Linked DNA regions of Homo sapiens. The protein of the gene in region 1 interacts with the protein of each later gene in a biochemical or structural test. Each region holds a gene or a part of one and is shown in the gene's direction. Other genes may lie near its edges. The genes, in order: PTPRB, CDH5, MAGI3 and NRCAM.

What was found.
Region 2: of the proteins of PTPRB (region 1) and CDH5, one has a biochemical effect on the other in vitro, tested with the Homo sapiens proteins (one study listed by BioGRID).
Region 3: the proteins of PTPRB (region 1) and MAGI3 form a complex in vitro, tested with the Homo sapiens proteins (one study listed by BioGRID).
Region 4: the proteins of PTPRB (region 1) and NRCAM form a complex in vitro, tested with the Homo sapiens proteins (one study listed by BioGRID).

The regions. Positions count from the first base shown.
Region 1 is NC_000012.12:70,515,405-70,522,436, reverse strand, and holds the end of PTPRB (receptor-type tyrosine-protein phosphatase beta), read left to right. Parts: exon of another isoform or gene 1-925; coding exon 926-948; 3' UTR 949-6,567; downstream 6,568-7,032. UniProt on the Homo sapiens protein: Plays an important role in blood vessel remodeling and angiogenesis. Not necessary for the initial formation of blood vessels, but is essential for their maintenance and remodeling. Can induce dephosphorylation of TEK/TIE2, CDH5/VE-cadherin and KDR/VEGFR-2.
Region 2 is NC_000016.10:66,362,746-66,369,708, forward strand, and holds the start of CDH5 (cadherin-5 preproprotein), read left to right. Parts: upstream 1-3,945; 5' UTR 3,946-4,013; intron 4,014-5,897; exon of another isoform or gene 5,898-6,007; intron 6,008-6,963. UniProt on the Homo sapiens protein: Cadherins are calcium-dependent cell adhesion proteins. They preferentially interact with themselves in a homophilic manner in connecting cells; cadherins may thus contribute to the sorting of heterogeneous cell types.
Region 3 is NC_000001.11:113,386,454-113,393,528, forward strand, and holds the start of MAGI3 (membrane-associated guanylate kinase, WW and PDZ domain-containing protein 3), read left to right. Parts: upstream 1-4,061; 5' UTR 4,062-4,580; coding exon 4,581-4,896; intron 4,897-7,075.
Region 4 is NC_000007.14:108,147,117-108,152,436, reverse strand, and holds the end of NRCAM (neuronal cell adhesion molecule isoform A precursor), read left to right. Parts: intron 1-1,683; coding exon of another isoform or gene 1,684-1,717; exon of another isoform or gene 1,718-1,730; coding exon of another isoform or gene 1,731-1,742; intron 1,743-2,289; coding exon 2,290-2,527; 3' UTR 2,528-4,788; downstream 4,789-5,320. UniProt on the Homo sapiens protein: Cell adhesion protein that is required for normal responses to cell-cell contacts in brain and in the peripheral nervous system. Plays a role in neurite outgrowth in response to contactin binding.

The DNA.
Region 1 (7,032 bases):
GTCTCACTGGTGGCTCTGGCCCAGAGTCTTTCAGGAGGTTGCAGTCAAGACTTAGACTGGGGCTGCCATTATCTGAAGGTTTGACTGGGGCTGGAGGACTCGCTTCATAATGGCTTGTTCACATGGCTGTGGGCAGATGCAGCCACAATTCCTTGCCATGTGGACTGGTATCTCTCTATAAATCAGATAATCTTTCTTTGACAAACATTATTTCATACCCTCTTATCTCCATTCTAAATGATCTTCAACAGGTAGTGTCTCCTAACCTTTTACTTAGTTCTCTCTACCACCCAGCCTAGCCAGTATGTTAATGAGTTAGCATCTGTAAAGCACAAATAAAGAGCTACTATTTAGAGGAGTCCTTTGTAAATCAGATAATTATTTTGTATTATGAATAATTACAAATTACACCCTAATTGATCTGTATAGTAAATTAAGGTTTTTGCATGGGAGATTCCTTAAGAGGCTTCAGTATGAGCAAGTTCTGAGGGATCTTGGAGGTTCCTTTGTCTTGTTTTGACTTAAGAATCTTTTTTTAGAGTAATCTTGAGCACTCCTGAAAGAAGCTAACTATGGTATAGAAAAGGATAACCACCACGTAGCTGAAGGCTAAGATTCAGGTCCGAACTCTCGAACTAACTAGCTGTAACAAGCTGTGTAACCCTGAGTAAGTTACTCTGCCTCTCTGGGCCTATGGCTTCATCCATAAAAACAGAGGCGATGGGCTAGAATCACTAGTCCCTTCCAAGTCTAATAATCTGTCTTTCTAAATGGAATTACCTGGTCCCAATAGGAATGGTCTCATCTTAAACTAGGTTGAGCTATATGTTTCTGCTGGTCTTTCACATTGGTAATTTTCATAAACAGCGTAAACAATTATGACACACCCTGCGGCAGTCTCTAATTACAGTGTTCTTCCTTTCAGATCCAGTCTATTCAAGGCATTGAGAATGTACCTGAAGAGCTCCTGGATAAAAATTATTCACTGTGTGATTTGTTTTTAAAAACTTGCTTCATGCCCTACAGAGGTGCCAGCTATTTCTGTTGATACTATGTATAATTTATTAATCTGGAGAATGTTTAAAATTTTATATAATTTAAAGGTAACAGATATTATTGTACATAGTTGTATTTTGTAGTTTCTTCTGTAAATATGTATTTTTCATAATGTTTAATATTAAGCTTTATATAATACTATTTTTCCACACTAAAGTGTTCATGACTTGTTCTACATAAAACTAATTCAACCTGTATGACAGGACTACTGGTAAAATGCATATGGAGGTGGTGGCAGAGACAATCCTTCAGGCCATGTTTTCTACCTGTTTTGATATTCACTGGACAGGAAAAAGGGCAGGGCTAGAGAGAGCAAATACTATGGCTAGATTTGCTGCATTGCTGTCCCATGAATCTCGAGAGCCAACAGACATGTCCTAACTTGCTATTAGGACAAATGTGACAGTCAAAAAAAGGATTAGAGGGAGGGAGAAAAAAGAATTAAGCAGTACCAAAGCTGAACTAGATGCTTGTGTCTGAACTAGTTGCTCTCTCTCTCCTTTCTCCTTCCAGGGATTCAAGCCAAAGTGGTCAGCTCAGGGATCATGTAACTTGCAGTGCAAGCCCAGGATGGTAGGATGCAGGGTTGAGGGTTCTGATAGAGAATGATTCCAAACAGAAGTGATGAATTCCTTTTGTTAATAAGATGCCAGCTATACCCAGACTGGAAACATAACATGCAAAGCACTATCTACAGTGATTAGAGATCCTTTCATTGCATTCATGGTGTGGAGTGTGAACATCCACACCCATACTGTAATGTATTTATACACACTAGTTTCTGTCTCATTTTCAGTGGTCTCCATTCCTAGAAAAGTCACAATTATCCATTCCTACTTGATTTCCCATTAAAAGAATATTATGGTAGCAGATTGTGCCCCTCATTAAAAGGCTTAATGCCAACATTTTCATAGAAATGACTACAAACATCATATATAGTAAATTTAAAAACAATAGCAAAAACAAAAACAGTGGTCTTCAGTAAAATTTTCAAAACTTCTTTTAGTAAATCAATGAAGTCAAAATGTCAAGTAATCACCCAAAGTTGCATTTAATAACAAAAGGCACTACATACTGTACCAAGTTTATCTTCAATATTTGTGCCTTACTTACTTTGACTATAACAAATTCCAATGAGTCAGAAAGTATTTCCTTCATCAAGGTCCAGTTCCGACAGCATTCCTGGGAAAAATTTGAAAGGAGTTTGTACGGAATCTTCATAGATACCTGAGAAGATGAGCTGGAGATGTTTGCCTTTTTCACACTACAAATTTTTCTGTAATAAACTTGGGAATTAGAGGTCAAGTTTGTTGATGGCATAGCTTCCTTTGCATAAAGAGTATATTTCTTTTCAAAGTATATATTTTTGTAACCTACCATAAAGTCCGTAAGTGAATACAACGAATGTAATTGACATAATAATTGAAAATCATTGACTATACCTAAAATAGTTCTTTATAATTAAATAACTCTACACCCAATCTGGAAATTTTTCCAAGGTTATTTGAAGTTTACAAAAATGTGAAGCATAATCATAAGCTTCAAAGATTCACAGTTTCATTGTGCTCAATGCTCTTGTGAAATGACAGTCTTAAGCTCTGATTCTGTATCAAGGAACTAAGTGAATCTTCTGGAAATGAAAAGGAACAACATATGTGTAAGTGCAGTAGATGTACCACCAGCGAGAAAATAGAGGTCAGAGATCTACAACGTGTGGCATCCATTAGAAATCACCTTTCCTACATTGAAAAGAAAAAAGAGAAAAAGCAGAATTTTACACTAATGTTGCTTGATGCAAAGCACATTAATGCTTGGAAGGATACATTCATTTTCGACTTTTCATTCACTCAGAAAACTTCTAGTAAGTATCTGCAACCTGCTAGGCACTGTTCCAGAATCTACACATTTCTACTCACATAAAGAGAATCCTCATAAAGTTAGGATTGTTGTTACTACCTTCAATTGAGCTTAAAAGACAGCCTCATCAAGGGAATGGGATAACTGAGCCAGTCTAGGACAGTGGTCACCTTCCACAGGCCACACACTGGAAAGTGCTAATGCTACTTTAATAGCAAACCTCTGGATCTAGGAGAGAGAGCAATTAATTGCACAAACCAGGAGTTAAAACCATAAAAAAAACCTATGCATCTGTAATAGTAAATAACACTCACGTACTCTGGCAACATCTAGGGTAGTATCAGAATTATGTAAATGGACATGACAGGGAAAAATCGTAGGTTTTTTTAGTCTAATCCAACCCAGGAAATGTTTATTCCTACCCTACACCTAATTTTAAACCTTCTTAGCAACAAATATTTCACTATTCGCTCCTACTCCTGGGAAGACTAAATATATAATTGACTTATTTATTAAATTTAGGAGAAAAAAAAAGTTTTCCTTGACATTCAGCTCTATTGGATTTATTTCCATTTAATTGCATCATGTGTTATGTCTTGGTAAACACTCCATTTCCTGTCTTGGTGGGCATCCTGTCTGTGTACCTGTGCAGTACACTTTAATCATCAAGACTTCAAAGTGCTTTTGAGCTATCAAATCTTGGGAGAGTCCCATCTAGCATCTTAATAATTATTTTTCCAAGTTCGTTATAATTAACTCCTTTAACCTCATCTCATTAAATCAATTTTGTATTGTCATTCTGTTGTTCTCTGGAAAGCAGCCAATTGTTCAGCTCTTGAATCAGAATTTTCAAAGACTCACCTCTCTTACCTGGGCTTGCACATATTTGTCCTAAGTAATTCTCTATCCCTTAAACCTCTGAGTCCCTCTGTTTTATTACTTGCCCCACTCCTCCTACTTGAATATGTTTGTTTTCCCAGTTGAATGTGATTTTTATCTACTGTTCATATTATCTTTTATACCCATGAGTATAATTTCATAGTCCTTTCAGGTTCCACATCATCAAAGAGATGACCATAATTTCACTTTTTTTTGAAATGAAGTCTTGCTCTGTTGCCCAGGCTGGAGTGCAGTGGCACAATCTCAGCTCACTACAACCTCCGCCTCCCAGGTTCAAGCGATTCTGCCTTAGCCTCCCAAGTAGCTGGAATTACAGGTGCCTGCCACCATGTCTGGCTAATTTTTGTGTTTTTAGTAGAGATGGGGTTTCACCATGTTGGCCAGGCTGGTCTTGAACTCGTGACCTTAGGTGATCCACCCACCTCAACCTCCCAAAGTGCTAGGATTACAAGAGTGAGCCACCGCACCTGGCCAATTCACTTTTAAATACTAAAAGGCACACAGCACACAGACATTTTCGGGGCAGTTTTCTTTGGGAGGGTCTTTGATAAATTTTGTAATCACCTCTCGGAAGAAAGCCCAAAATGACATGTGAAAATAATATTAAACCATTTACCAGATGTCCAGCAATATAAAAATAGACCTCACATGCTACCCTTCACATGCTGATTCTCTTGCCTTGCTGTTTAAGGATCCAGTTTCTTATGTTAAACATTTTCCTTACCTTTTGCAATAATATTATTGGCCATATACTAAATTCTCATTCACTTAGCTTTCTAAGAATTCTTTGAGGTTGGAATCCTGAAATCATAAAGCTACCAGATCTGCACAACAGCAGTGGTAGTATCTGAGCCCAAACTCTGAGACGCTCTAGAGTTTTAGTTTACAAACATGAGCCAGACCAAACCTGACCTGGTGAAAATCAATAGGTAATAAACTGCTTGTATATGATAGCAGTTCAAGGGCTTTCTGGGTTCCATTTCACTGAGGAAATGAAAATATAACTGATTAGCCAAGACAGAGTGGCAATAAGGAATAACTGATCCTCCTCCAAGTTGCAGTGAGCAAGCCCTCAAGCCTACCTCATTCCTGAAGAGTTGAAGGAGAAAATGCCGTGCTAATTTTCTGCCCTGCTATTTTTAACCTGAAATTTAGAATTACATCAGGTATTCAAAGAATGTTCCCTATCAAAGGAAAATCTGTAAACGATGACTGCAAAAAGCAAGTGAAATGATGCAAAGAGAAAATATTTGCAAAACAGAATCTAACCAGACATCATCATGAAGATAAAATGGCATCTCTTCTGTGTGGCCTGGGTGTGCTTGGACAATCCTGTCACACGTTTCTATTAGGACATGTTGCCCTTTTGAGGATTCACTCTATGTTGGCCAGATGGTTTAACTGATTAAACAATTGAATCAATTTATTTTGCTTTTTGAATTGACCAGATATTTAACTAAATGTACTGGGTTTGGCATTTTAGACACACTGCCTTAGATTCTTGTAGTGCATGATGACTTTGAAAATGTTTGGCCATTTTAGTTAAAATGCAGGGTAACATTTGATGCAGCCATGATAACAGGAAAAATCTGTTCTGTTCTAAAAATGTTTCTAGCAATAGAAGTATTTCTGGCTAAGAGAATACTCTTGACTTGTAGGGAGGCTCCCTCGGAATAAATGTATGCAACACAAATAAGGCATTTTATTTTTTAAAAGATTGTCTATATAAGATACACTTATTAAATAAAGAAATTGTTGGTGAATGCTCTGAAAATAGAGGCTTATGTAATGGAAATAAGAGATTAACAGGTTTACCAAAGATTATTTTTATAACCTCTATGCCAATTCACATGATCTTATATAAGACACCAAAATAAGTTATTCAAAACTGTGAATAATGTCAGACAAATGCAATGTGTCCCTTCTAGAACAGTCACAAAAAGAATTGGTTATAGCTATTTTAATAAATAATATCCTCACCCCAAGAACAAACGTTCAGTTATGCTGAGATGTTCTAATAGCTGTGTGCGTAGATAAGCACCTCCATCAAGAAAGGAACACATGAAATTGTGGCTTTAAGAGTTTGTGGCAGAGTTGGACAGCATTCCATCTGCAGGTTAGTAGGAAAGCCTGTACCAGCCTTTGTGGAATGTCCTAGTCTGCCACACTGACAAGAGGGTGCACCAGTGCTCTACTGGAAGAGTATTTCTGGTTTTCTATGCAGGACTATTGGGCTTATAAATTCCTCAAGAACAAGGACCAAGTCTTTAATCTCGTCTCGACTCCTACCTTGTGGAAATTAGTGCACAGCTCATAGACATTCTACACACACTTCTTGAAATTGCTCCTGGCCTGATATTTTGGATGTTAGGTAGTCAGTGTCCAATAATACTGTTGTCCGTGCAGGTTAATCTAGCCATTCCTTCATTTGTGTGAAGCATAAATAATGTAAGTAAATACAGCAACTGAACTTTTTATGTTCTATAATAGAGCACTTTTATGTTTTTAATATCATTTATTATTTCTCTGAAAATCCAGTTAAGATGGCAGATGATTCTATTTTTTCATATTATAGCATCTACCCACAATATTTCTAACTAACTGTATTTGAACAAAGAACTTCCTTAGTCTTTCAATTTAAATTATGTATTTGCTTAATACATTTTTATATTTGTAACTGTGGTAAAAAAAAAATCTATATAGCATCTTGCATACATTCTCACTAGTACAGGAATAAAACTGCAGTTTGTTGAAGGAGAGTGCTCTGTCTTCTATTCACCTGCTCCTCATTTATCAATTTTTGTCATCTGTCTGTTCAGGAGAAAGGCCAAAAGTGACTGCTTTAAAATGAGAAAAATCTTCCAGGACATTATCATGAAGAATATAGTTGTCTTAACCTTTAGTCCTGTAAGTACTGAGTTGGTTACCTACAGTATTGTGTACATAATAATAGACTCTCCAGCTGACCGTCTCCAACTAAATTCCTGTTTTCAGTTCTTTACTTCATTAATAACCAAAATGTCATCTGTTACCAACAGTGTTGGTGTACTCTCAGAGGTACTGCCCTGGCTAGATTTCCACTGAGCCCTTCAGAGACACTTCACACATTTGCGGACAGTGTGGCATTTGGTAAAGAGACGCCATGACTATTTCCAGAGTTATGAGTTTGCCCTTTTGCCTTTTTCATATTTTAGTGGAAAGATCACTGTCCTTCACAAC
Region 2 (6,963 bases), on another chromosome or scaffold:
AGAATCACAGCTGAGGATGAGACCCCTCCCTGCTCCTCCTTCCCGCTCTTCCTCCTTCTGAGCCCCTTCTGAGACTACCTCAGGTGAGCAGCCCTATTTTATGTTCCCTGGAGGTGTGTCCGCCCCTCAGCACAGCACAGCCAGCTGGGCAAAAGGGTTTTTCCTTTGCCCGTAACTGAGCAGATGGGCTCATCAAGCCCTCTGCCATCAGACCATCACCTGCCTTAGAACACAAAACACTCGACTCTCCCCCCAGTCTCTCTGACCCGGGGAGCAGCGGGCTGACTGCCGGTTCTAATGAGTGCACAGTTTCAAGTTCACATTTGGGGAGCACTCACCTATTACCAGGTGCTGGGGATAAGCACCCAAATAGGACACAATCCCGGTGGGAAAGGAGAGGAGGGTTGTGAATGAGGTCTGTATAAAGTGCCCTGGGAGCTCAGAAGAGGGAGTGGAGTGTAGAGACAATGAGATCTGGGTGGCTCTGCCAGGGCTCTGCGCACAGGCGAGGAAGGAGAGAGAAGGAAACACACAAGGTGGAACAGCATGGGCAAAGTCCTGAGGCGTGAGGCTGCAGGGCTTCACCACGACCGCCCCTGCCAAGCTGATGGCATCGTTTTCCTGCCCCATCCTTGGGTGTCTCACGCTGTGGGGAGGAAGGAAAAGGAAGTCTTATTTGGGGAACCCCTGCTGTGTCCCGACTCAATTACAGCAGGGCAGGAAAGCTCCCTGGGTAAGGAGCTGGGCTCTGGAAACAGAAGCGTGGCTCGGAATTTCCGCCCCACCACTGACAAACTCTGATCTCAGAAAGGCTTTCACTCCCAGCCTCTGTTTTCCCATCTGTAAAATGGGCCTAACAGTAGTACCACCCCCGCAGGGTTGTCCTGAGGTTTGAATGAGGAGTCCCAAGGAGAGCTTAGTGCATTAGCAGCAGACACAAAGGCTGTGGTCCTCAAATGTAACAACACAAACACGTTTCCTGGGGAGCTACAAACACATAAGTCCTGGGATTCTATCACCAGCCATTCTGACCCCATCAGCCTGGAGTGGGGCCCAAGAAATCTGCATATTCACTCCCCCTCTCCCAGGATGGATGGCTTGAAGACCACACTTTGAGAAACAGCCACTCGATAAGGCTTGCTGGTCCTGTCATTTATTTTCATTGTCTCATTTCATCTTCCAAACGGCCTGCAAAGTCTGAACAGATAACTCATTTCACAGGTGAGGAAAGAAGCTCAGAGAGGCAAGTCGGCTGCCCAGGTCATGCAGGCAGCAACGGGTCATGCTAGGATCCAAACCTGGGTCTGCAACCCCCACACCTGTACCTCCCCAAGCAGCGCTCCCTGTCGGGTCAGGCTTCCTCCTGGCAGAGGCCAGGTGGGCGTCCCCAGGCCTTGTCGTCCCACCCGCCATCCCACCCCCACTGCCTCCACTGTTGCTTCCTCCTCTGCTACTAATCTGGTCTCACAGACCATCCCATTTCCTGCTAGCCCACCAGCCGCCTTCCTTGCTCCCAATGACACTTCCTGGCCTTGTGCCCTCCTGTTACCTCCTTTGCCTCCAGAGAGGTTGGAGCAGAGGCTGGGCAGTGCCAGAAATCAGGCATGAAATCCTCAGGGGGACCAAGGAGGCACCAGCCTCCCTCCCACAGTCTCAGCTACCTCTGCTACGGTGACCCCCAGCCCCACCCCTGGGGCCCACAGCTCATGCCTGGCTCACCATTCCTTTGTTTATGGACCACAGGAACAGTCGTTTTCAGGGCAGAGTCAACTTCCTCATGGACTGGGAGTACAAAGGGAATTGGCAGATGGTGCCAGGACAGGCCCTGTCCCCATCTGCCACAGCCCCGAGTCTGAGACCCAGCAGGAAGCAATGCACAGGCCAGTGTATCCCCATGGGCACGTAGACCATGAGGACAGGCGGGGGTGAGGGGGATGTGGACTGGAACACAGGGGACAGAGCACTGTCCTGGCTCCTCTGCGGCCAACCCCCCCTCTGGGCAGGAGAAAGCAGAGTTAATCCCATTGGAGAAGGAAGCGCTGAGCTGTTGTTTGTTCATTCCACAATCGGCTGTTGAATGTGTTGGATCCCACTCAGAATTCCGCCCCAAGGACTGTTCTCCTTCCAGCAGGTCGCTCCTCAGTCTCCAGCATCATCTGTCTTCCCGTCTGCTGGATGCTCCCTGGGGACATGAGCGTGCTGCCATAGTTAAAAAAAAAAAAAAAAAAAAAAAAAAAAAACCCTCCCACTTCTCTGCTCCCATTCACTGTAAGACTTGGGGAAGAAGCTACAGTCACACGTGACTCCACATCCCCGTCCCCCTTTCTCCCCTTTCTCTAGCCCCTCCAATCTGTCTTGTCTACCTTTTCCTGTTTAACCTGTTCTGGTCACAGTCATTGATGACCTCATCTTCCAAATCCAAAGTTAAGTCTCAGCCCTCATGCTCCCCAGGCTGACCCACTGACTACTCCCCTGCCCTCCTCCTCTGCCCTCTCCTGGCATTCCTCCTTCATCATGGGACCCTCTTCTAATGGATCCCCAAATGTCAGAGGGTCCAAGTCCTCCCTCCCTCCAAGCTCATCCATGCCCATGGCCTCAGATGCCAGCCATAAGCTGTTGGGTTCCAAACCTCGACTCCAGGCTGGACTCACCCCTGTCTCCCCCACCAGCCTGACACCTCCACCTGGGTATCTAACGAGCATCTCAAACTCAACCTGCCTGAGACAGAGGAATCACTATCCCCTCCTCCTCCAAAAATATCCTTCCATCACACTCCCCATCTTGTGCTCTGATTTACTAAACGGCCCTGGGCCCTCTCTTTCTCAGGGTCTCTGCTTGCCCAGCTATATAATAAAACAAGTTTGGGACTTCCCAACCATTCACCCATGGAAAAACAGAAGCAACTCTTCAAAGGACAGATTCCCAGGATCTGCCCTGGGAGATTCCAAATCAGTTGATCTGGGGTGAGCCCAGTCCTCTGTAGTTTTTAGAAGCTCCTCCTATGTCTCTCCTGGTCAGCAGAATCTTGGCCCCTCCCTTCCCCCCAGCCTCTTGGTTCTTCTGGGCTCTGATCCAGCCTCAGCGTCACTGTCTTCCACGCCCCTCTTTGATTCTCGTTTATGTCAAAAGCCTTGTGAGGATGAGGCTGTGATTATCCCCATTTTACAGATGAGGAAACTGTGGCTCCAGGATGACACAACTGGCCAGAGGTCACATCAGAAGCAGAGCTGGGTCACTTGACTCCACCCAATATCCCTAAATGCAAACATCCCCTACAGACCGAGGCTGGCACCTTAGAGCTGGAGTCCATGCCCGCTCTGACCAGGAGAAGCCAACCTGGTCCTCCAGAGCCAAGAGCTTCTGTCCCTTTCCCATCTCCTGAAGCCTCCCTGTCACCTTTAAAGTCCATTCCCACAAAGACATCATGGGATCACCACAGAAAATCAAGCTCTGGGGCTAGGCTGACCCCAGCTAGATTTTTGGCTCTTTTATACCCCAGCTGGGTGGACAAGCACCTTAAACCCGCTGAGCCTCAGCTTCCCGGGCTATAAAATGGGGGTGATGACACCTGCCTGTAGCATTCCAAGGAGGGTTAAATGTGATGCTGCAGCCAAGGGTCCCCACAGCCAGGCTCTTTGCAGGTGCTGGGTTCAGAGTCCCAGAGCTGAGGCCGGGAGTAGGGGTTCAAGTGGGGTGCCCCAGGCAGGGTCCAGTGCCAGCCCTCTGTGGAGACAGCCATCCGGGGCCGAGGCAGCCGCCCACCGCAGGGCCTGCCTATCTGCAGCCAGCCCAGCCCTCACAAAGGAACAATAACAGGAAACCATCCCAGGGGGAAGTGGGCCAGGGCCAGCTGGAAAACCTGAAGGGGAGGCAGCCAGGCCTCCCTCGCCAGCGGGGTGTGGCTCCCCTCCAAAGACGGTCGGCTGACAGGCTCCACAGAGCTCCACTCACGCTCAGCCCTGGACGGACAGGCAGTCCAACGGAACAGAAACATCCCTCAGCCCACAGGCACGGTGAGTGGGGGCTCCCACACTCCCCTCCACCCCAAACCCGCCACCCTGCGCCCAAGATGGGAGGGTCCTCAGCTTCCCCATCTGTAGAATGGGCATCGTCCCACTCCCATGACAGAGAGGCTCCTCGAGGGCACGCTGGGCCTCCTCGTGGCTCAGAGCAGGGTCGGGGAAGGTGCACCCAGAGGTAGTGCCAAGGGCACAAATGGGCATCTCGGGGCTGAGGGGGGCAGGGCAAGGGCTTGGCTCTCCCAGAAGTGTATTCTCCAACTCAAAAAGGCCCACTGGCCTTCATCAGTGCCAGGCTCAGAGAGGGCAGTATTCTGCCCCAGTTGCCCAGCATGCCGGGGCAGAGGACTGGCACCCAGGCCTTGGCCTCCCCTCGGTGCCTTACCCTTACTGGAGAGGATTTACCAAGGCCTGACACCAGCCTCCTCAGCCCCCTACCCATACGCCACTAAAGCTCTATGCTGGGATCTGGGGAGGGGCCCTGAAAAGGAAGCTCCGAGCCTTGGCCCCTCTCGGTCAGCCAGTGCCCCCATTTCAGGATAGGCAAGCTGAGGCTTGGCTCTGGGCACTTGAGGTCTTGCCTTTCCCTCTGGGCCTTTCCCTGCCCAAACACCATCGGGGCCCACTATGTGTCAAGGGAGCTGTAGTCTGGACAGCGGTCCACCATTCCTCCCACCAGCACCCTTTCAAAGGCTAGAGCATAAGAGCCCCAAGGCCCCCACAGCCCAGGAAGTCCCCCAGAAGCAGGAGGTCTGGGCCAAGAGCCTGGCCTGGAGACAGCTGCCCTGGGTACAGATCCCAGCTCTCCCATTTGCTCTGGGGTGACCTTGGGAAAGTTACCCAGAGTTTCCAAACCACAGTGGGGAACAAGGGATGGTGTGGGGCTCATTATTTTACCATTAACAACTCCACAAGGTAGATACATTCTTTCTTTATATCTCAGTGAAAGCAACTGAGCTTTGGAAACATATGAGCTGGTGTGGGGATTTGAACCAGGATCTCGTACTCCAAAGCCCCAGCTCTCCCCAGGTCTCAAGTGTCTCATCTGTGAAATGGGGAAACAGTGTTTCCTCAGTCAATTGAGTGAAGTGAGCTACATCCCTGGTGCTGGGAATGGCACATAACATGAGATCTTTAAGGAATAGTGGCTGGATTTACCAGCTAGCACAGAGCCGATCCTGGTTGTGAATGTGATAAAGATTTTGGCCCTTGAGGTATGGTCAAACCCCATCACGGAGGGGTCCTCAGGTGCCCAGCAGGTACGAGGAAGGGGGTGCAAGTGAGAGGACATCGCGAGCACCTCTGGGCCTCTGCTCCATGTCAGGCTCCCTCCCCAGCGTGGACGTTTCTCATGTGTGATGGGCAGATAGGATTCTGACAAGAGAGGAAGGGCATTCCCAGGGAGGCAGCTTTGAGGAGTCGAGGGTGTACCTGGAAGGCTCTTTTGCCACAGGCCACTGGAGCCAGGGCCAGAAGCCCTGGTCCATCCTCAGGTGGTGGGAAGCCTGGGACTCTCCTCTGCCTGCCCTAGAGAGCAGCAGGTATCCACCAAGGGGCCCAAGAGCTGCTGAGCCCCTGAGCAGCCCTACCAATTTCAGCTTATGGTGGTGAGGGGTAGGGGAGGTGTATACTGGCCTGGAAGGGGTTAAGCTGCCCGCCTGCAGCCTCAGCCTGAGCTATTGTGTTGCCAAACAAGGGCCGGACATGAGGGCAGGAAGCCAGCAGGGGCCACACATTTTCTGCAAAGTTGGATGATTCACTGCTGACTTGGGGACACCCAGGGGACAGAGGGGACACCATCCCAGGAAGAATCTTAGGCTCATTTTGCCCACATGGACCCATGACTGTTCCCTGTATCCTCTCTCTGCACCCCCTCAGTCACACTGAAGCAACTATGAGAATTCCCATTTGACAGATGGGACCATCGAGGCTGAGGGAAGCTGTGCAGCCAGTCCAAGGTCACACAACCAACACAAGGTAGAAGCAGGGTGAGTGCGGTTCCTTCTGACCCACAGTCCATGCCACACTCCACAGTGAAGCTCAGAGAGGGGGAAAGCAGAGCAGTCCAGGCCACAGAGGCAGGCACAGGGACAAGCCAGGAGCCCAGTGATACCAGGGGAAGGAATGTTCTAGGAGGCAGGGCCTCAGGAGCTTCACCTCTGGCTGAGGAGATACTAAAAAGTCTGTCCTGATCCAGGTTCAAGCTGGTGTTAAGTGGGTAAATCATGGAGGGCTTGCTGGAGGAAGAGTGGGAATCCCAGATGCTAGGAGGCCTTGGGCAGCCCCTCTGCAGCCTGCACCTCAGTCTTCCCATCTCTTGAGAGTAGGGGATGGTCCCTAAACTAATTCAGGGATTTCCAGGTTGTCTGCCTTGGACCATAGCAAAACAGTCAGATCCTGGCAGGTCCAGATACTAGAAGGAGGAGGAAGTGGGACCCAGGGGCAGGCCGGGCTGGTGGTGAATGAGATTTCCTTCTGCAGAGGAACAGAAAGAGTAGGAGGTGGGCCCAGAGTAGAGCCAGGAAATGAGGTCAAGCGTAAGTTGGCCAGTCAAAGCCACACCCACCAGGCTGGAGAGGGCGGGTAGATAGGAGTCAAGACACCTGCACCCTTACTGAGCACCTACTGTGTGCCAGGCTTTGCACCCATGATCTCATTTAATCCTCCTGCCCAGGGAGGCAGCTATTGTTGCCTCCATTACAGATAAGGAAGCTGAGGCTCAGCAAGCAAGAGATGAACCCAAGGTCACACAGCTCCCGAGCAGCTGGGCAGGTTCAAATAGGCAGGTGCAAGGGCCTCATTCTGTTCCCCGCACTGCCCTGACAGTCCCAGACAAAGTCAGGAAGCCCAGAGGAGTCTGGAAGCCTCCTTAGCATGGGTGTTCTCTCCTTGAAGTTTGGAGCTGTCCCTTTAGAAGGCAAGGGGATAGACTAGATGACCCGGA
Region 3 (7,075 bases), on another chromosome or scaffold:
GTCCCTATGTTGTGCAGCCAAGAGGCAGGGCCCCCTTCAGAGTACCAGAGGTGATACTGGATAAGTAATAAGATATTTCATTACCCTTGGCAAAGATTCATTTAGTAAAGGAAATTTGGGAAACTGTGGCCAAGAAGCTAGAGGAGAAGTCTTGCTGGAGGCCTTTCGGGGAAAGGCTTCCTTGATCTACAAAAAGGAAATGAGGAAAGGAAATATCCTTTTCCCTCCTTTCAGTCTTTAGCCATTATTGTGTGTGGATGTGATACTTGGAGCCTCTGCAGCCATCTTGGGACTGAACTTGTAAAGTTTCCATAGTGAAACATATTGATATGTTTTGGATATTTGTCCCCTCCAAATCTCATGTTGAAATGTGATCCCCAGTGTCAGAGGTGGGGCCTGGTGGGAGGTGTTTTGATCATGGGGACAGGACGGATCCCTCATGAATGGCTTAGTGCCGTCTTCTTGGCGATGAGTGAGTTCACACCTGACCTGGTTGTTTAAAAGTGTGTGGCACCTCCACCCTCTCTTGTTCCCACTTTCACCATGTGATGTGCCTGCCACTGCTGCACCTTTCACCATGACTGAATCCTACCTGAGGCCTCACCAGGAAGCCAAGCAGATACCAGCGCCATGCTTGTACAGCCTGCAGAACTGTGAGTCAACTAAACCTCTTTTCTTTATAAATTACCCAGCCTCAGGTATTTCTTTATAATGACACAAAAATGGCCTAACACACATAGCTATCTCTAGCTCTATAGATTAGATAGATTAGATAGGGATAGCCCAAAGAAACCTTGGAGATCACCAAATTCAATTGCCTCATTTATTTTTATTATTTTTGTTCCATGTTGTTTGGTTTATTAATATTCCCCAATGGAAATCACAACTATTAAACCAACCATTATTTTTGGAAAGTCGTGATAAACATGAATACAATACGATTATTTAATTAGGTGTCATTTTAGAGATAGAAGCTTAAAATATGACCCCTTTATGTAATAATTGCCAAAATAATATCCTACCAGAATTAATTCAATAGCATGGGTAGCTTATTTCTAGAATATTTTAAAAACTGAACCAAAGCTTACTAAGATGGGTGAATTTAATACAATGTTTTTAGCTTTGTCAAAGATAGTACAATTTAGCACAAACTAAAATAAAAATTTACTGTTTGCTCTATGCTGCATCCTATGTTATCAAATAGCTTGACTCAAATTACTTGACTCAAATAGCTTCATACAGTTCTCACAACAACTCAGGTAAACACTGTCATCAAACCCATTTTGTGGATGAGGAAATTGAGGATAGGCAAGGTTAAATAGCTTGCTCAAGATCACAGAGCTAGCAGTAGAAAAGCTGGGATTTGCAGTAAGTAGAAAAGCTGGGATTTGCAGTCTGATTTGCTCAAGCTCTGAACCACTGCAGTTTTCTGCCCAAGAATGAATACAACTTATTCATGGTTGAGGCATGTGGCAAACACTGTTGGATGCCTACTTAGCAACTATTTCCCCTTTTCTGCTCTCAGTCAGAACACTCATTTTGTTTAGGGGTGACTTGTGATCAATTTAATGAACTGTGGCCAATCCTATCTCTTTTTGCCAGTGACTGGTCTGATGTGGCATATGACCATTTTCTGGACAATAAGGAAGATTCTAAAGTCTGGGAAATATTTTTCTCCTTCATAAAAATGGGGGACAGCACTTCCTTTTCTTCCGTTCCTGCTCTGTGCAGTGACCTCTGTGGATGTGATGTCTGGAGCTATGGCAGCCACATTGCAATTAAGAGGTGACAAACCTGGAGACAAAAGCTCACATGCATGTGATGGCAGAGAGCAAACACAAAAAAGAGCTTGGGTCCTTGATGACATGATTGTACTGCTCAACTAACCCTGAAACTATCTGCACTTGAAATTTATATTGAAGATATAGTAAATGACCTCATGCTTTAAGCTACTGCCAAATATTCTGTTCCTTGAGGCCAAAGGCATTCTAACAGATGCAATCTAGACACAGAAAGATGTTTTCCCAGAGTTCCTGCAAAAACAGATGATGTGTAGGTTATGGAGATTTTATCCAGGAATCCATTAGTATAGGTAGTAGTTTAGAAAAAAAATACTCCAAGCTTTGTCTCAGATATGGTTAAATCTGAGCCATCCACATGGTGTCTGTGCTGAATATTTTCCCCTCAGATGCACTGTTTCCTTTTCTGAAACTGACTGATATGAACTATATCAAAAGCCTCCCTTGCCCTCTGGCGTCTGGTTGGACTTGGCCATTGACAAGCACCAGCAGGAGACTGGAGGAGGGTGGTGAGTTAGATATAAATCCCCCAGGTCCTTTGCTGGGTGTTTACTTAGGCTGACTGCATCCGTTGACTGAAGGTCACAGACTCCTGTCAGGTGGCCCTGTGTGTCTGGATTTTTCGGTAACTGTTCTTTCCCGATTGGACAGATCTAGGAGCTGTAGCCTCAGGGTTCCAGCTTCTCTTGTGGTTTCCCACACCCTGCCCACATCTTTGCAAAATGCCATTTGTTTCCTGCCAGGACCCTGACTGATACAATGGTGTCAACGAAATCACTGCAGCTATTGAAGCTTGGTCCAGTCTATCTGAGGTGTGGAGTTTTATAAGGGCTTTCACCTACTATTAAAGGGAGACAGGAGACTACACAAATAAATGTCATGCTGCAAAAGTGAAACAAAGATCATAGCTCAGAGAAAACACTTTCCACTTGAGGGCAAGAAATCAGAGAAAGCTACCTGGAAGAGCCGGCATTTGGGATGAGGACGGATAGGAGTTTTAAAAGAGATGAGATGAAGGGCATTCCAAAGACAGGGAAGAGTGTAAGTCAAGCCGGGGAAGAGAGAAAGCTCAAGTGAAATTTCTGAAAAATTAGAGCTGGAAGGGATCTACGATATCTTTTATTTAATGTTCGTTCTCCCTTCACCTCCTTTAACTGAGATTTGGCCAAGGTCAAACAGCAAGTAAGTAGCATGTCAGGACTCCAACCAGATCTGCTGGCTACCAGGTTAGTTCTTAATAATCCACCTTCTACCTCCACCCCACTCCCTCACCTCAGGCAGTCTGCTTACTTCTCAGTCTCTCCCACTAGACTGTAACCTCCTCAATAGCGGGGCTTCTGTTTTCTTCACCCTTGAATCCCAGTACCTAGCACAATATCTAACACAAAATCGTCATCGTCATCAGCAGCAGCAGCAGCAGCTACCAAACTTTAAGAGGCAACCACCCACTGTCAGGCACTATGCAGTTATTTTGTACATCTTCTGTAATCTTCACTTTTCACTGAGGACGCTGCGGCTCAGAGAGGTTGTCTAATTTGTCTTAGGTCATACAGCAGTGCCGGACTCTATTTTATAATATCTTTCATCAACCGGACTCCGAAGCCCTGCCTCAATGGGCGTTCAGTAACATCTGTTGAATGAACGAATGAACAAGCAATATCCACTCAATGCAAACTATCGGCTGTAACAGGCCACCCTAAAGGCCCCGGAACCTCGGCCGGCTCAGGACTCCGCACGTTGTCTTCCAATCTAAGCACACCGGCCCCTCTCTGCGCCCCGCACAGGCTCAGAGGCTCCGCCCGCGTCTCCGCCTAACTCGCCGGCCACGCCCCCACTTCGGGGAGCTCGGTCCCTCTCGGATTCGAGTTTTCCTCGGCTCCAGCCGCCGCGCAGAGGGCCTCTCCCGGCCCTGCGACCTACAGCCCCTTCCACTCCCCTGCCCCTCCTCTGCGCCCTCCCTCACTCTCCAAACTTCTTTTTTCCACCCTCTCTAAACTTCAGTCATTCTAGTGCCCGCCTCCTCCACTCGCACCGACCAACCAGTGGTCCCCATTCTCGTTGGCGGTCCGCCTCCTGCCCGCCGGGGGCCAATCCCTGGCGCGAGAGTCCAGGGCCGGGGCTCGTTCCCAAGCGCCCAGCCTGTGACGGCAGCGCGCCGGGCGCCGCGCGGCGGGAGGGGGCGGGGCTCTGGATGAGGGATGGGCGAGGGCCGGGGGAAGGGAAAAGGGAGGAGGAGGAGGTTGCGGCTGGTTTGAAAGCGGCAGTTTCCTGGCAGCTTGGGCAGGCGTTGGTCTCCGCGCTACAGCTCCGCAGCGGCCACGATCGATCCCGCGACGGGTCTACGCGCGCTTCTGCGCGCCCCCCACGGATTTTTCCCGTTCCCGGCTCTTCCCCCTTCACCTCCCCGCCCCCCCGCCTCAGCCTTTCCCGCCGCTCGGGCGCTGAGCCCAGGGACCAGCCGGCGGCAGTGACCCCGCCCGAAGCCCCTTCTGGAACCTCCTGGGGACAATTCCCTTTTCCTTTCTTCAGCCTAACCCGCGGTGGCCCTCGCGGAGTCCGGTCAGCCCCGGGGAGCGCAGCCGGGAGGGGCGTCCAAGGGGCGTCTCGCGTCTGGGAACGGCCGGGCCCCCAGCGGGCTGTGGTCGCGGGGTGGGGGCCGGAGCGGCGAGGCCCCCCTTACCGGGCTGCGCGGGCCGCCCAGGGCCCCCGGGCTGAGACGGGGCCGGAGCGGCGCCCCGGCCGCCCGCGCGGGGTCTCCCCCATGGTGCAGCGGGGTTCGGGATGTCGAAGACGCTGAAGAAGAAGAAGCACTGGCTCAGCAAGGTGCAGGAGTGCGCCGTGTCCTGGGCCGGGCCCCCGGGCGACTTCGGCGCGGAGATCCGCGGTGGCGCGGAGCGTGGCGAGTTCCCCTACCTGGGGCGGCTCCGCGAGGAGCCCGGCGGGGGCACCTGCTGCGTCGTCTCGGGCAAGGCGCCCAGCCCAGGCGATGTGCTGCTGGAGGTAAACGGGACGCCTGTCAGCGGGCTCACCAACCGGGACACCCTGGCTGTCATCCGCCACTTCCGCGAGCCCATCCGTCTCAAGACTGTGAAACCAGGTACGCCGGCCCTGCGTATCTGTCTCGGGGTGTTGGGGAGAGGGGCTTCAGGGTGGGCGTCCTGGGAGCGGCGGCACCTCCCCACCGCGTATTGTCCCGGGTAATCTTAGACCTCTAGGGTGTGCCAGACTCCTTGACGAGGGGGAGGGGTGGCGTTGGTGAGTCCCATTTTGCCGAAGGGAAAACTGAGCTCTGGCTTGGCGCGGTTGCTCTGCTAGCTGTGCTAGCTGTCACAGAATTGCGACTAGAAGCTGGGTTTCCTACATTTGTAGCTCCATCTCCCCCCGCAGACAAGAGTTTTTGACTAGAGAAGGCCAGCCTTTTCCTGTGTTGTGCAAAAAGGCCCTTAGGATTGTAACATTTTCTTTGGAACGATCTTACGCATCTTCTAACAGGGAAAAAGGGACTTTACTATAGAGGCACTTGGTGCCAAGGTTACCACCTGGTGTACCTGGAAGGGCTTAGCTGCTTCAGTGTTTCTTGCACTCTAGCAGACATCTCAGAGCTGACAGCCTAACTCTGTCAGTCCAGGTGGTTCAGGTGTCTGAGTACCGATGACGGTACAATATGTGATATGTGGCAGACTGGTGTGTTCTTGCAGGGAGCTGTTGAATAGAGTCTGGGTTTTGCAGGAAGACCTAGGTGCCTAGCGGAGTGAAAGCTTCTGTAACGCTTTTGATTTTACAGAATTTTGTTGAAGTGGTAGGTTAAAGGAGCCTCTGTTGCCCTGGTATCTTTTATGCTAGTAAAAATTGCTGCAAAGCACGTTATGTTTATGGCATACTCGTCAGTTTCAAAGCATTGATCAGAGACAGCATACAGTGAGATCTGATAGTATGTAGTAGTTCTTATGAATTTGTTATAGACAGCATTGTTGGTTTTGTTTCAGCATAGATAGAATGTGGTTCTGTCGTCTTAGATGTTTGTGGGAGAGAGAATTGTGATTGTAACATTATTAGAAACCAAACTGTTTTTCCTTAATGTGCTCTGCTGAGTATACGGTGCATCAAAATATAATGGGCTGGTTAATTGTTACCTGGGCTAGGTAGCAGTCCATCCCTTGATGGCAAAATGCTAGAAAATTCTGGATAAAAATTTAATATGTTATCTCCTTCTCATTTCTTTCTCAGCAGCTCGCTTTGGAAATATTAATATATCTTTAATAGTCCTTGAGCTTAATGGGGCTTGATGGTTTGTGGTGCAGTTTACATATGTCTGTGTATTGTGGATATGTATACACACAGACTCACATGCTCCTAAGGTCATAATTAAGATTTTCTTTCTATAGCGTATTCCATCGTATTCATTTTAAGTGTATGGGTTTATGTGGTGAGGTTTTCTTTTTATTGTTGTTAATTTTTTAAAACTTTGGCAGACTTTAAACAGCTTTTTCTGTATAGTTTTGAGAATTTGTAAATTTTTTTCTTAACTCTAACTTTTACAGCCATGTGTGAAAGGCAGAGGAAAGACTTTTGGGGCTGTAATTCAGCTAGTCAGGCACTGTCTGTAATATGCAAAAGGCTATATAGACAGCATTTACTAGTCTAGCTGCCAAATCTTAGTTCAAATCCCATGAGTTAGTGAATAGTGAGAACATCTGCATCATTTCTTTGTGTTTTGTTTTGATTCGTTAGGGCATAGATGAGAATATAACTTATTTTTAGAAATTTTAAAGTTGATATATTGACATGGAAGCTGGTGTATTCTAAATTATTGTGATCTTTTTTAGAAGACTGAAGAGATGGCTATTTCATAACATTAGTCTAATCTACCTGTTATACATTTTTCTCAACCTCTATATTATATTTAACAATAATTCAAGATTTAGAGCATTAGTAATATTAACTGTGTTGAATAAACATCCTATGCCCCCGTATGTAGTTGACATTATTAGAGTAATACAGTTTTGCCCTCTTGACAGCCACAGACACTGTTCTATTTTAAAGATTTAGCCAAAATAAAGGGAATAACGTATTAATGGCCACAGAACATTTTGTAGTCATTAGTAATAAAGTTCTGAATACTACACTTGTTTTTTGAAGAGACACTTTGTGTCAGTAATTTCTCAAGATACCATTATGTCTGTGTTATTTGAGATTAATATTGTTTCTAAGCAGGTTGTAATTTAAAATTTTTAATCTCTTTTAAAAATAGTATTCTTAGCTTCTTAATAGCCTCA
Region 4 (5,320 bases), on another chromosome or scaffold:
CTCTCTCTCTCTCTCCCTCCCCCCAGCCACACCAAGCTCCTTAGTGTTCCTAGAACCTGCCAGGCTTCCCCTCACCCCGAGACATTTATACTGCTTGTTACTCCTGCAGGAACTGCTCTCCCTCCAACTATTCACCTTGCTAACTCAACTCTTTTAAAGTTGTTGACCAGATATTACTGCTTGATGAGGTCTTCCTGGACATCTTATTAAATGCCAGCTCTCCATCCCTTCTCCAACACCTTCTGCAGTCTTTACTCAGCTCTATACTTTGCATAGTGCTAATCCTCTTCTGACATAATATATATGTAATTTTTTTTATTATGTTGATTGTTAATTGTATTTTCTTCCACTAGAAATAAAGCCAGTGAGGTGAGGGTTTTAGTCTGTTTTGTTTGCTGCTATATTCCCAGTGCCGAGAACAATCTATCTTAGAGTAGTCACTCAATAAACATTTATTGGATGAAGGCATGGGTGGATAGATGGCTAGACCAAAGAAATGCCACAGATGACAAATTTCCAGCAGTGTATTCCTTGGGACACTAGTTCTACAGAGCAGAATAAGACTAGTCATTGGAATCCAGGTGACAAATTCTGCCTGTTATTGAACTCTTCAGCTGAATTAACTGTCACACTGAAACATGAACTATATTTCACAAGAAGGATTTAATAATTAAACCCCAGAGATGTTGTGTAGGCTATTTTCATAACAGGTTAGACACTCAATGCTATGTCCTCTGAAATGCTCACAAACACAGACCACCCCAAGATGATACCTCTCCAGTTGTTTATTAGCAGTGGTGAAAATATAGTTTATTCAGTTTGCAATAAGAAATTGTGTATTACTGAAACAGGTTGTTTTCAGTGGCATATGCCAGTGTCATATTATGCTAGCATTATTTCCCAGTCTTCAGATTTTCTTCTTGGAGAAAAATTGAAATCCCTAGTAAAAGTTATTGTCAAAAGAGCCAGGATACTTGTGCATCTTGAAATGTTTGTATCTTGGCTTGAAAAAAAAAGTCACTGTCTGAAACAGAGGGAGCAGTAAAGTCTTAGCAGAAATTGCTAGATTAAATACTGCAGCCAGTGATACCTTTTGTATGTTAAGGCTTTTTCATTTTTACATTAGTAAAAATGTATATGTTTCCTATTTTGCCTTGCATTTTTGTTCTTTGAAAGAAAACAAAATGTTAGATCCTGTCATTGCCTTTTTCTATTTTTTTCCCAAATGTTACCTATTAAAAAATAGGTCAATATGCATAACTAGGTATTTGACCGTATGGGTGAACATTCAAAAACATAATGATTACTCTTTGTCTTCCAGAAATTGTGCTTACGGGTTCAACAGAGAAATAAGCAAAAATTGTAATAATGGAATCTTGTAAAGTCGTATTAAAGTACACTCCTCAGATTCCCATCCAGTATAGTCAGGCTGCATAACACACAAGGAAGAAGGGAGCTGGGGGGTTAACATGAGTGTAGGAAGCATTTGCTATTACATGTTTGGAGTCATTCACATTCTTTAGAATATATTGGCATGCCATTCATAGTACAAATGTAGAGCTTTTAAGTTAAAGTGCGTCTCTTTCCAGATTAATAAATCTTTACTCATTAACTAAAATTTTTACCAAAAAAACAAAAAAATACTGTGTACTATCAGTATAAGGATTTTGCTTTTCTTCTTAGGCTGTTTTCATTTGTTTCTTCTGCATCCTTTTAATGGAATTTTGTAGGTCTCTTGAAAGGTAAGGTTGAAGTTTACAGTCTGGCCTGCATTGATAACAAAATTATTTGAAATGCAGGATTTTGCTTCTCCTTCTGGCTCAGAAAAAAAAAATCCACATTTCACACTTAACCAAAATCATGCTCCATTCACAACCAAGGAATCAGAGATATTATGCAGTTTAACATACTAACTTCTTTACTTGCCATAAGCTTTTGCCTTTTTGAATTCAAAATAGTGATGATTTTTCTACTTTTCTGAATTCTTTCTTATTTAATGCTTGTGATTATTTCTGGATTGCTTTCAACTCAGGAATCAGAATTTGTCATTGAAATTAACAAACACTATTGGGAGCCATCCACTCTACTGAAGACTTCATGATTCAACCATTTCTGCTCCTGATTTCCATTCCAACTCATCCTCGTCATTGGAGTCAACCTGAAAATTAGATTTGGCCAGAGAAGCCCAGGACTCCAAATGCTTTCTCATAATTTGCATGCATGGTCTTTAAAAACAGAAAATGTTACCTAAATGCCAATCTTGACAAAAATGTTTTCTCTTTCTTCCAGTGATGCAGAAGACCACAAGCCTTTGAAAAAAGGAAGTCGAACTCCTTCAGACAGGACTGTGAAAAAAGAAGATAGTGACGACAGCCTAGTTGACTATGGAGAAGGGGTTAATGGCCAGTTCAATGAGGATGGCTCCTTTATTGGACAATACAGTGGTAAGAAAGAGAAAGAGCCGGCTGAAGGAAACGAAAGCTCAGAGGCACCTTCTCCTGTCAACGCCATGAATTCCTTTGTTTAATTTTTAAGCTCTTTGCCAATATTCCATTTCTCTAGAATGTTTATCCTAAGCACTTGTTTGTCAGCCCTCTCATACTATGAACATATGGGTAGAGAGTATATTTTCTGCTGTATGTTAGTATTATGAGAATAGTTACAGCAAAAACATAACTCAGTCAAATGATATGTTAATATGAACTGGAATGCAAAGTGCATACTTTTTCATTCAAAATGGGTATTCTTGATTTCCTCAGAACTGATAAAAAATAATGCAACATCACCAACAGATCCTGTTATTTCCTCTGCAGGATACAGTTCAATATGATGCATGAAAAATGCTCCACATTTAAAGGACATACCCGTGTATGTTATGAAAACATGGTTTGATACTTTGTTTATACTACCCTCAGCTGAACCCCTATATATGAATTCCGTTTTCATTGTCAAGAATGTTACTGTAGTATTCTCTAGAACTTCAATGTCTTTGTGGACATTGTTGTGAAATTGGTGACTATGTATAGCTGTCGTTAGTCTTTTTGGGAGACTGTTAGGAACAGTTTGTACAGTATATACTTGCTAAATGAGTTCATTATGACAGTCACATTGCTGATGCTTACTGAGAACTATTACCTACTCTTGGCTCCTGTTACTCCGTAGGCTTCTTAATCTTCCAGGCATTACAGCAGCACAGTGTTCTACTTTTTACATCATTTCTATGTTCGGTTGTTTTTAGGCATAAACAATGTGTATTGCAGTGCATTTCGGCATTTGTGCCATACTGAAAGAATCAAAAACAAATCATCCAAATTAAATTTCAAACATTATTTCAGAGAACACAGGGCAAGACACATACAGTGCCTTCAGATATTAAGCATTCCACAACATCGTGCATTCTGTATCAGCTGGTCCAGTCCATTCTGGGTCCTAGATTACTGTCATTGTCTAAAAGTAACTTTTAAAAAGCAGAGTTCATGAAAACTGCAATGCTGGGAAAAGAAGGAAACATGAAAATAAAAATAAGACAGTTTATTAGAAATAGCATTTCCTCATAAGCATAAAAAGAAAATCTTTGTTGCCAACTGAAGCACATGATGATTTTGTGGTCCTTTATGGTTTCTATTACATTCAGTAAGAAAGATGTCAACATGCTAGAAAATTAATTTTAAAACTAAGTTATTCCAACACTAAAAGCATACAACAGCATGCCAACAGTAATATATTATTCTCCAAGACTTTACCTATGTAAGTGTTCAAAACTCTGCAGCATTAAACAACGTGTATGCAAATTGTTATGGATACATTTCAGAATCTAAGAAATCAGGCAAGTGCTTAAAAGGCCAACGGTCCAAGGGATTACATCTGCAGTTTAAAAAGTAAATATATATTCTATCGTATTCATAAACAATATCTATCAAATGGGTTACCTCCAAATATGAAAATCTATAACAACCTATGGTTGAAGGAATGCTCAGTTTCATTTGCCAATAAATTGGTTTCTCATAACTTGCATCAAGTTTAATTTTAAGTAAAGCTTTTTATATGTAGATATTTTGTTGAATTTGTAAATACACTTAAAATGTAGATGCTATATGCTTATAGGTGTTACATACAAATAAACATGCAATGTTTATGTTGTACTGTATAAGAGGTAAGCTAATTAATGCAGTGAATGGGATTGGAAAGCATCTACTTAAATATCTATTGGGTTCCCCCCTCCCCCCACCTTTTTTGCTGTGAAACTGAAATAGTGAACTTTTCTACGTATTGACAGCAGATTTTTCGATGAAATCTTCAGAGCTTTGCCTATGGGGCACAGTAGGCCTAGTAACCTGGCATGTTTGATATATGTAGGTAAAGCATAATTTAAAGTAATCCCAGGTAAAGATGGCCCTAAATACTTTCATGTCTCTATATTCATTTTTCACAGATCCACCTGTCTCTTGAAAATATAAAAAGACAAAACAGGTTTGCCTTGGCATCAGAGAGCACAAAGATTAAAAGTTACTTTAAATTTGCCAATATTTTGGGAGAACAATAAAACTACATTTTTTCCTCTTCCATACTGGTAGATGCGAAATTTATCTGTGCATGAAAGGGTCACTTCTGTAATAGTGCAACAGATTTGGTATTAAAAATTAAATGTGGTTTTAAAAGTTCCTCTCTCTTTTGTAATTTATGTTCCCAATTGAGTGTGAATGTCCAAGTAATGGTGTATGTAATGGTACAGGCAAATGTGACTGGATTTCCCTCAAAAAAGTAACTATTAAACAGTCTTGATCTCTTTGTGACTTTTAACTTTTTCAAACATATATTGCCTAATGTTTTAAAATGGTGAAAAATTTTATTTTTTACTTTCAAAAGGCTGTTCTATGCAGAGAAAATTAAAACAAAATATAAAACAGATCTAATAGGACATATCAAAAACATTTGAATGAAAAACAGGACTAGATATTCCCAGCCTTTTGAGAAAAGTTCAAGAAATCAGGTGGTGCCTCCTTTCCCAAAGCCTGGCTCCTGGTGTCTGCCTGGGCCCGGCGCTTCTCTTCTGCTTGCCTGGACTCTGCCCTCCCGAATCACAGGCGACTTAGATTTCTTAACTCTCCTGTCTGAAGAGGGACACTACAGGTATCGAATGTATGTCACCCTCTCCCTTCTCTCCACCCCCATGCTTCTAATCTTCTCAAACCCTCTGGCAAACAGCCAAGCCCTGGCGTGTTCCCATGTTCCACCACCTGCCCCTTATTCTCCAGCCCCCTAGTCCCAGCATCACACTGACAAGACCTCCTGCTGGCTCAGAGCTGCCCTCCTCCATGGT